2 separate regions of the Homo sapiens genome follow, and region 2 is linked to region 1. The links come from fine-mapping of genetic effects on gene expression. A gene starts in region 1. The other region holds a variant in brackets. All regions are shown on one strand. Distances are between the middles of the regions.

Region 1 (4,385 bases):
TTAACAAAATCTAGCTCTGCGTGTACTATATAATATCTGAACTGGGATACATCAGCTCCTGTGGTTCACTATTTTTGGTTCTAAAATGTCAGTACTAGGGGCCAGCCTAACGGTTCTGATTACCTTTCACACATTAGGGAGATAGCAGCTCTGAGGTATCATATGATACAGACACCTTCTCTGTACTGATCAAACACATCATTCAGTATGGAGTCATTAACTGGAAGGGTTTGCAGCAGTGGAAGTGAACTCTAAACACCACTATGTCCTTCACTTATTCATGCAAAAATTATTTATTGTATACTTACCCAGGCATTGGGGATACAGCCTTAAAAAAGATTACGACTCTGCCCTCACAAAGCTTGCATTCTTGAGAAGGGAGACTGATAATAAGCAACAAATCCAAAACATTGTTTCAGACAGTGATGAGTGCTGAGAAGGAAATAAAGCAAGGCCAAGTCTTTATAGAGTGTTTGTGGCTATTTTAGATGTATGGTCAGACAAGGGTTCTTTGCAGAGGTGACATTTGAGCCGAGACTTAAATGACAAGATGGAATCAGTAGGCAAAGCACTAAGCAGAAGAAACAGTTCTTGTGCGAGGAGCGAGCAAAAGGAATTATTAACAATGATGGATGGAACTTGGCGACTTCCGGGAACAGCATGAAGGCCTTTGTTACCAAAATATGGTGAGTATGTGCTGATGAGGTCCCAGAGTTAGGCAAGGAGTTTCATTTTTTATTCTAAGTGCAGTTGGTATCCACTGGAAGTTTCAAGTAGAGCGTGCGTTGTGAGGGATGTAATAACAACAGGCAGTTTAAAATACAATATTGTACTTCGATTTGACTTCTTCGAAACCTAGTTTCCAATTCCAGTGCTGGTCAAACAACACCCTGGCCGTCCCTGTTTGAGCAGGCTGTTTGCGCTTGCCGCGGCTTGTTTGTCCCTGGCGCCCCGCTGTTGAAAGCCTCAGAGCGTGTGACAGTTGGCAGGCGCAGTGAGGCGCAGCCCGAGCCAAGTCAATGCAGGGGCCGGGGCTGAGGGAGGGGAAGAGGCAGAGGAGGCGGTGATGGCGCGCTGGGAGGGCGGCGGCCTCTGCAGCGAGGGTGGTGGCGATGCGCATACCGAGAGGATAAGGAAGCGGTTCCCGACGAGCCTCCTCGGGGCTTATGGGGCCCCTGGCGGTTCGGCCTCGGAGGCTAGCGGGGCTGCCCGATTTGGCACTGGAAACAATGGTGGCTCGGGGCTGGAGGCAATGGCGCGAGTGCTGGGGGGCAGGGGCGACTAGGGGAGTTTCGGTTTCTCGGGCCTAGCGCCGCGGAGCCTTGCTGCGGGCCCCAGTGGTAGCACCCCCGGGAACCGCAGGTGTTGATTTAAGGCTCGGAACAGGCGGGCCTTCTGCCCACATCCTGCGGCGCCCGCGACCCGGGCCGGGCGATCCGGCGCCGGGTTTTGTTATCCGCCCGCACCTAGAGGCCGCAAGGCAGCCGCCAGCCCCGGGACTGGACCCCAGGGCGCCCTCGGCCCTGCGAGGTCCCCGCCCTCTCTTCCGTCTCCTCCTCACCGCCCTCCTGAGGCACTCTGATGCGGGCGGGCATCTCTGCCGAAAACACCTACAGCGCCCGCTCCCTCGGTCCTTCGAGCAGTGATCCCTCCGCGGCCAACCTCCCCAGGGAAACCAGCGATTCGCGGTTCAGATAGCGACCTTCGCCCGCAGGTTCCTGCTCTGCCTTCAGACTTCGGCTTCAGTGGCACCTGCTCAGCGAGGCCTCGTCTAACCAAGCCATCCGAATTAACTACCCACTCACTCGCCATCACATCACCCCGATTTAATTCGCAGCGGGGCACTGACTTTACACTCGTGTGTCTTCTGTGTTTATTTATGGTCTGTTTCTGGAATGTCCGCTCCTGGGACTGGGACCATGATTTTCTGGCGCAGTGCGGGTGTCTCGGCGTCCGGGATCGGGCGGGTCGCAGTAGGGCTCCACATTTGTTGAGTGACTGAACACCGTTCCCGGCCGGGGAGAGCGCCGCAGCCGGGTCCACTTCAGGTAGGGGCTGGGCTTTCCCGGCCCCGCCTAGGCCCCGCCCCCAGCGCGAACCCGCTCCCACCTCGCCTGTCCACGGAGCAGCAGGGGGTTTGACTGTGCTTTTCCCTCTTGCTTCCCTCGCTCTTTCTGCAGCTGCCACGAAAACCCGGAACGGCGGAGCGGCGCCGCCCCTCGCGGCACCTCCCTGGCAGCCCTTGGAGGCCGCGCTGGGCATGCTCAGTCAGCTGGGCCGCCTCAGCTCTCGGAGTAGGAAGCTCGGGCGCTCCGGCTGTAAGGAGCCGCGGCGGGGGGAAAATGGAGCCCTTCACCAATGGTGAGTGGGCTGCCGAGGCGCCGGGACCCGGGCTCTCCGGAGCCCTGAGGGTCGTGGGCAGTCGTGACACGCGGGGTCGGGCTGCAGCCGTCTCCCCCAACACCGCGGGCTTCCCACGAGGGCTGAGGGAGGCAGGGAGAGGGGATCTGGGGGAGGCAGGGAGGTTCGGGGGGCGGGCGGCGGCCAGTGCGGGACCCGGGGCTGGCTTGAAGGTCAGCGCCGCCGCCGCTCGCCCGGGGTGCGGCCGGTGGGCAAACAGCAAAGTTTGGGCTGCTGTGCGCAGAGGAGTGGGCAGTGGGAAAGTTGGCAGCTCAGGTTTGCCCCCGGAGGAGGCGGTGTCGGCCCGACTCTCCTGTAGGAGCGTTAAGTTGTGGCAGCTGCCGAGCCCAACTTTTGTGGGGCGCCAGGAGCTGTCCCCCTGCCCTTCAGTGAGCTGCCGGCGTGACTTTTCCTAATAGGGCGGGGTGGGGGTGGGAGGCTTGGCAGGTTAATGTTGTGGAAGGAAGGGAAACTTCAGGAAAGGCTTGCTCACCTCGCTCGGTGCCGCGGAGGTGCCTGGCCACAGTGCCACCCTCCTGACCCTGCCGAGGTACTCGGCAGGGCCACCACGCATCCCCTCACTGGCTGCAGATCACATCAGTTTTTCAGTCAAAGACTTGTTAATGTCAAGGGTCCGTCACGGTGGTGATACCACTGTGTGACAGGAAGCGAGAGTCAACGCAGGGAGCCTGCACCCTGCAAACAGCCACAGCCCTTCACTGAACGGGGAGCATAAATCCCACCCTAGTTAGAACCATGGCTTTTGTGCGGACCAGAAGTGCCAGAGCCACAATATAGGGGTGAGATGTCTTACCGTTTTGCGGTGTTGAGTGTGTGGATTCCCTTTTAAGATAGAAAGTAGGAAAACTGCCAGTAAGGGAGACGACTCACTAAAAGAGGATTCAGTCTCTGGTTGACATGTTTTGCTGAGTGTGGTTGGTTACTTCAGGTACAGTATCACATTAATAGGGGCCACAGTCTATATCCCTGTTTAGTTTGTTAGTTACCACTCAAGAGCAGACAGATATTGTCCACTTTATCCCAAATCCCAGCCAGACTTTGTTGTATGCTGTGCTTCATTCATGGGGCTGTGAACTACTGATTATATTCTCCCTATTCCTAATGTAGAATGCTTTATTCTACTGCCATCTTTCTGTCTGCACTGTTTAATTAGGCTTACTGATAACAACTTTAATTCTGAATTTTCTTTCTCATTCAGGTTCTATTTGTAATTACTAAGACTTAAAGAATAGTCTGGTGAAGTTACTCGAAGAATTAAGGAAGGTTTGAGCTAAAATGAACTAGAGACCATCTAGTACTTTAGTGTAAAATATGTTTAATACAAGTCGTTAAGTCCTTGTAAGTGACTATTCCAATGTTCATTCTTTGTTTTTGGAAGAATGCTTGGAGTTACCATGTTTTTAAATGTGAAATTTCATCTAAATTAAAAAAAAAATCTCTGTGATGAGGCTGACTCACCCATTTGGTCAAGATTAGTGCTAGCTGATTTGCTGAACCTTTGCCTACAGAATTAAAGTACTTTCTCAAGTTTTAAAATTGGTGTCTTTTCTCTTATAGAATATGCTTCTAGATTGCTTCTAGATGTGGGTATTTGCAAACTGTCACATTTGGGAGGACAATGGAAAAATCCCACAGAAGAGAACAAAAAAAGAAGCAATGCTTCAACTTTCATGTAGGAAATTGGATTTCTGATTCTTTCCTATCTTTCAGAGTTGATGCTGGAGACAGCTTGGCAGTGCATAATTTTGGTTAATGTAGCAATCACTCCTTGGAGCCTTATTTAGCATCCTTTTACAAGGAAAACAGAAACGACAATATCTACAGTCAATAAGAAATTAAATGTTAGCAATTTGAAGTGCTTTTCAGGTTTAAGATGGACAGGGTATTTATTTGAAAACTTTTGAAGGATTGCTGTAGAATTTTCTAGTGTTTTCAAATGACATGGTACAGTAGACAGTTATATA
Region 2 (4,385 bases), 60 kb before region 1:
AAAAAGCTTATGTTCTAGTGAGGAGACAAGAAAACAAACAAACAACTACATAATGAAGTATAAGGAACTGACCAAAGCTAAGAAGAAACAAAAAGCAGGCTGACAGGATAGGCCTTGGTGATGGTGGATTTAGGGAGGAGTGGTACTGCCTTAGAGCCAACAAGGAGGGTCTCTCTGAGTAAGAGACAATTCAGAGACCAGGATGAAATGGAAAACTGAGACATGAATTCCCTAAGCAATAAACTTCCCAAAGCTTATCCCAAAGAAAAGAGAAGAGAAAAGAAAAAAAAAAGAAGGAAGGAAAGAAAGAAAGAGAGAGAGAAAGAAAGAAAGAAAGAAAGAAAGAAAGAAAGAAAGAAAGAAAGAGAGAGAGAAAGAAGAAAGAAAAGAAAAGTTAGGAGCCCATTTTGCTGAGAAACTCTTTTAAATAAGCTACAAGTACTTGAATCTGGCTCAATTTTCACTTCTAGGATTCTGCAGCTCAATTCCATAGCCTGTTTCTTCATTCTCCATCACCACTTCTGTTCCAGTGGGCAGGAGAGAGCTCTGAAAACACACATGCACTCGCCCACATACCCACAGCTAGGCTGGATCTTGTGACAAGGAATATCACAGAAATACTCCCAGCCTCCTATACCTCTTCTACCTGCCCCCACGCCCTGCAGAGTTAGAGTCCGTAGATAAGCCCTTGGGGCCTCCTCTTCTTTGTCGTCTTTGTCCCCTTCTTTTTCCCACTCACTGGCTTCCAGCCATCCCCCTTCCTGTGGTGCCCCTCTCACTACATGAAATGCAGCTCTGAGGGACCCCATTCAGTCTTATGTTTCGGGCCTTAGGTGTAGGCTACTGCCTTCCTTTCTGCCCCTTCTACTTTATCGACTTGTTCTTTCAGGTTGAAATAATAAAATGTAGAAAGGTGGAAAAATTAAAGCTTGAGACTTAACTAGGATCTAATCATGGCAACATGTGCTATTGGGCCAAACATAGGTTGCAAACACAAACCACAGCAGGACAAGGCACATGATACAAGTCTATGAAGAGTGTCTGCAACATGATAAGAGCTAAGCTTGTTATATTTCACTTGACAATAGAAATTGTATGGATGTATTGCCATTTAATAGACTGTGATTCAAACAAAACAACTATAGGCTGGCATATAGGCTGCCAGTAGGCCACTATGGTTCCCACACTAGGACTTGCCCCTCTGTAAATGGGGAAATCAAGGAAAGATCTTGAGCAGTGGGGGAGGCATGGTCGAGCAGTAGTTGAAAGGATTAATCTGGTGGCATCGTACAAGTAACTGCAAGAAGCTGAGCTTGAGAAGCTGGGAAGACATGATTGAAGGCCATTGTGAGGAAGGATGAGGACCTGGACTACTTTAATAAGCGGTGGGATTTTTTCTTAGTTGGATAGAAAGAGATTGAAAATGATTCAAAAAGGCCAGTTGCGGTGTCTCATGCCTGTAATCCCAATCCTTTGGGAGGCTGAGGCAGAAGGATCACTTGAGCCTAGGAGTTTGAGACCAGCCTGAGCAACATGGGAAGACCTCATCTATAAAAAAAAAATAATAAATTAGCTGGGTGTAGTGGTGGATG[C/T]CTGTAGCCCCAGCTACTTGGGAGGCTGAGGTGGGAGGATCATTTGAGCTCAGGAAGTCAAGGCTGCAGTGAGCTGGGATGGCACCACTGCACTCCAACCTGGGTGACAGAGTGAGACCCTATCTCAAAAAAAAAAAAAAGAAAAGAAAAGGAAAAATCAACAGGCTTTGGTAACAAATTGGAGAGGGACAGAATCAAAGTAACTAACTATATGGTTCAATCCTAGATAATGGAAGAAGGCTGGAAGCATATAAAGCAAAGGGTGTTTATCTGGGGAAAGAAAACACTATTTGAGTTGTCAGGGTTCTGGTTCAGGTTAGGGTTAGACATCCATGTACTGTTGGTCCATCAGGCTGTTGGAATTACAGCAGCAGAACCCTTGAAGGAGGGATCACAATGGGAGCAATGTGGGATGAATGGGGATAAATGCTAAATCTGGGTACTGGAAAGGATAAAGAGAGGGCAGAGCAAAGGCCAGAGGTTTCATCTTTGTGGAAGGTCTGTATTCAGAGCAGAGAGGAAGTTGAAGCCCAACTCAAACAGGCAGATAAAGAGAGATCAAAGAGATGAGCATGAGATACAGTCCCCTCGTGCCCAAGGAGACAGGGTGGTTACAGACATGGAAAATCTGAGAATAATCACCTCTGATAAAGATCACAGAAGCTGCCCGGGAGGTGTTTGGTAAGCTTGGAGTTACGTTTGTGGGGTGGATGGGCAGAAGTCAGATTTCATAGCACTGAGGATGCAGCACAAGGAGAAGTTCAAGATCAATTCCTAAGACAACAACTTGGCACTAAAAAACATAAACTATGTTCTGAAGGCTTTACCCTGGGGACAAGGGAAGGGAGGTGATAACAGCAGAAGTGGCAGCCACTGGCGATCCTTTCTTTCCATGGTTTGGCTTCTACTCCAAAGCCACTTATTTGTGCATTCTACAAAAAGTTTCTTGTCCTTTTTGAAATAAAGCTCTTATCCTAAGCTCCATTCACACCTGCGTGATAATGAACCAGCTAGTACTTACTGTACTCAGGAAGCATGCAAAGTTCTGAATCTTAGAACAGAAAGTGAAAGCAAAAGTAAATTCCCCTTCAGTCAAATCTGCAGCAGCATGATTTAAGGTAACGTATCAACATTTCTCTTGGGTTTGTCTTAAAATTAGATTTTTTCAATAAGAATAATGAACTGAAGGTATAGAACTGCTGTGTTGAGAAGGTTTTGTAATCTAAGGCAAGGTTCTGGGGGACTGGGGTGAATTGGGCGCGGCTGTATTAGAAAGTGTATGCAGTTGAGGCTGGGACTTGATCTAAGACGCTGCTGCACTGACTCTCTTTCAGAGATCTTTTTGTCTTTTCTAAGCGTTTGTGACAATTCTTGCCTCTTCAATCCCAGGATGTTTTGTTCACTGCATTGCTATTTAAGGTACAGTGCAGTATAATAGAAAGCCCACCAGACCAAAGGGCAAAGAGCTATGTTTTAGTCCTGATTCTGTTTCAGACTTCCTGTGTGGATTTTGAGAAGTCACCATCCTGTTCCTTCATCTGTTTATTTAATTTAATTTATGTATTTATTTATTTATTTATTTTGAGAGAGAGCCTCGCTCTGTCGCCCAGGCTGGAGTGCAGCAGCACGATCTCGGCTCACTGCAACTTCCACCTCCCTGGTTCAAGCGATTCTCGTGCCTCAGCCTCCCGAGTAGCTAGGACTACGGGCATGTGCCACCATGCCCGGCTAATTTTTGTATTTTTAGTAGAGGTAGGGTTTCACCATGTTGGTGAGGCTGGTCTCGAATTCCTGACCTCAGGTGATCTGCCCACCTTGGCCTCCCAAAATGCTGGCATTACAGACCTGAGTCACTGTGCCCGGTCCTGTTTCTTTATCTGAACACTAAGGACTTGTACTAGCTGGCCTTTACAACCCTTACTAGTTCTAAAGTTAAAGACTGTGTGAGTAAAGCTTTTCTCTCTACTCTTATCAATCAAGTACATCTCTAGGAGTGTCTGCTACAAGTGGGGGCGAGCTACTCCTTCATTTTGGCCATTGAATGCAAGTTATAACCTCAATAATAATTTCATATCCAACACTAATTACTTACTTCCTATATGCTCCATGCTGTGCTGTGCCAACTTCTTCACATGAATTATTTCATTTAATCATCCCAGCATGAGGAAGGTATAATTATTACACTGTTTTATGGTTGAGATAAATGAAGCTCAAAAAGTAAAAAACTTTGCCCATGATCACGTAGGTGAGGTTGGTGGAATTAGCGTTGGAATCTGGGCACTCTGATTCCAAAGCCTCAGACCCACATAATAAGCCACTCCATTTTTTTTAAACCCTCCAAAATTCAAGCTAATAGACCAATTATGAGTGTACTTATCAGACGTTCTTGGAACACTGAGATTTGTAGCAGTAATTTAATGCTTGTTTTTAAAAAGAGGGAGAAGTATCTTTAATATTATTTTATTTTTGTTCCTTTAACAATACCTGTCACCTGCATTAATATTGCAAATTGAAAAATTGAAGTAATTGTTTGGATAATTAATGCTGCAGAACTTGTTAAGGATTATAAAAAGAAGAAGTAGCAGAGAAAACCTTCATGGTTTGAGTTGGAGCAGTAAGGAAGTAAGTAGAGGCAGGTGGTAGGGTGGCAGTAAGAATTGATTCCCCCAAATTAACTATGCTGTTTGTCCTAATTTTATATGTGTTGTAGCTTTACCCTTCAAAAAGAAAGAAACTTAGTTCTATTTACAAAGGTAGTAAATTCAGTTTGATTTAATTGTGCTTTCAAAAGTA

What was found. PIP is the estimated chance that this variant, and not a neighbour inherited with it, causes the effect.
Region 2: its variant is the best candidate, but not a certain one, in a credible set for the expression of LNPEP in whole blood (INTERVAL, PIP 0.85).

The regions. Positions count from the first base shown.
Region 1 is chr5:96,933,814-96,938,198 of GRCh38, forward strand. It overlaps LNPEP (leucyl and cystinyl aminopeptidase), which reads left to right and starts at 2,267. Exons shown (of 18, transcript NM_005575.3): 1 at 2,267-2,361. The coding sequence starts at 2,343. It overlaps LOC124901030, which reads right to left and starts at 2,262. Exons shown (of 1, transcript XM_047417984.1): 1 at 278-2,262. The coding sequence starts at 2,262. The coding sequence ends at 1,558. It also overlaps a transcript of ERAP1 not described here. RefSeq lists enhancers at 471-680, 741-870, 1,181-1,320, 1,621-1,930 and silencers at 951-1,070, 1,511-1,580, 2,521-2,590, 2,721-2,800.
Region 2 is chr5:96,873,818-96,878,202 of GRCh38, forward strand. It overlaps ERAP2 (endoplasmic reticulum aminopeptidase 2), which reads left to right and starts at 2,683. Exons shown (of 19, transcript NM_022350.5): 1 at 2,683-2,710. It also overlaps a transcript of ERAP1 not described here. RefSeq lists enhancers at 2,322-2,451, 2,472-2,621, 2,792-3,001, 3,372-3,581. The variant C/T (reference allele first, on the strand shown) is at 1,593.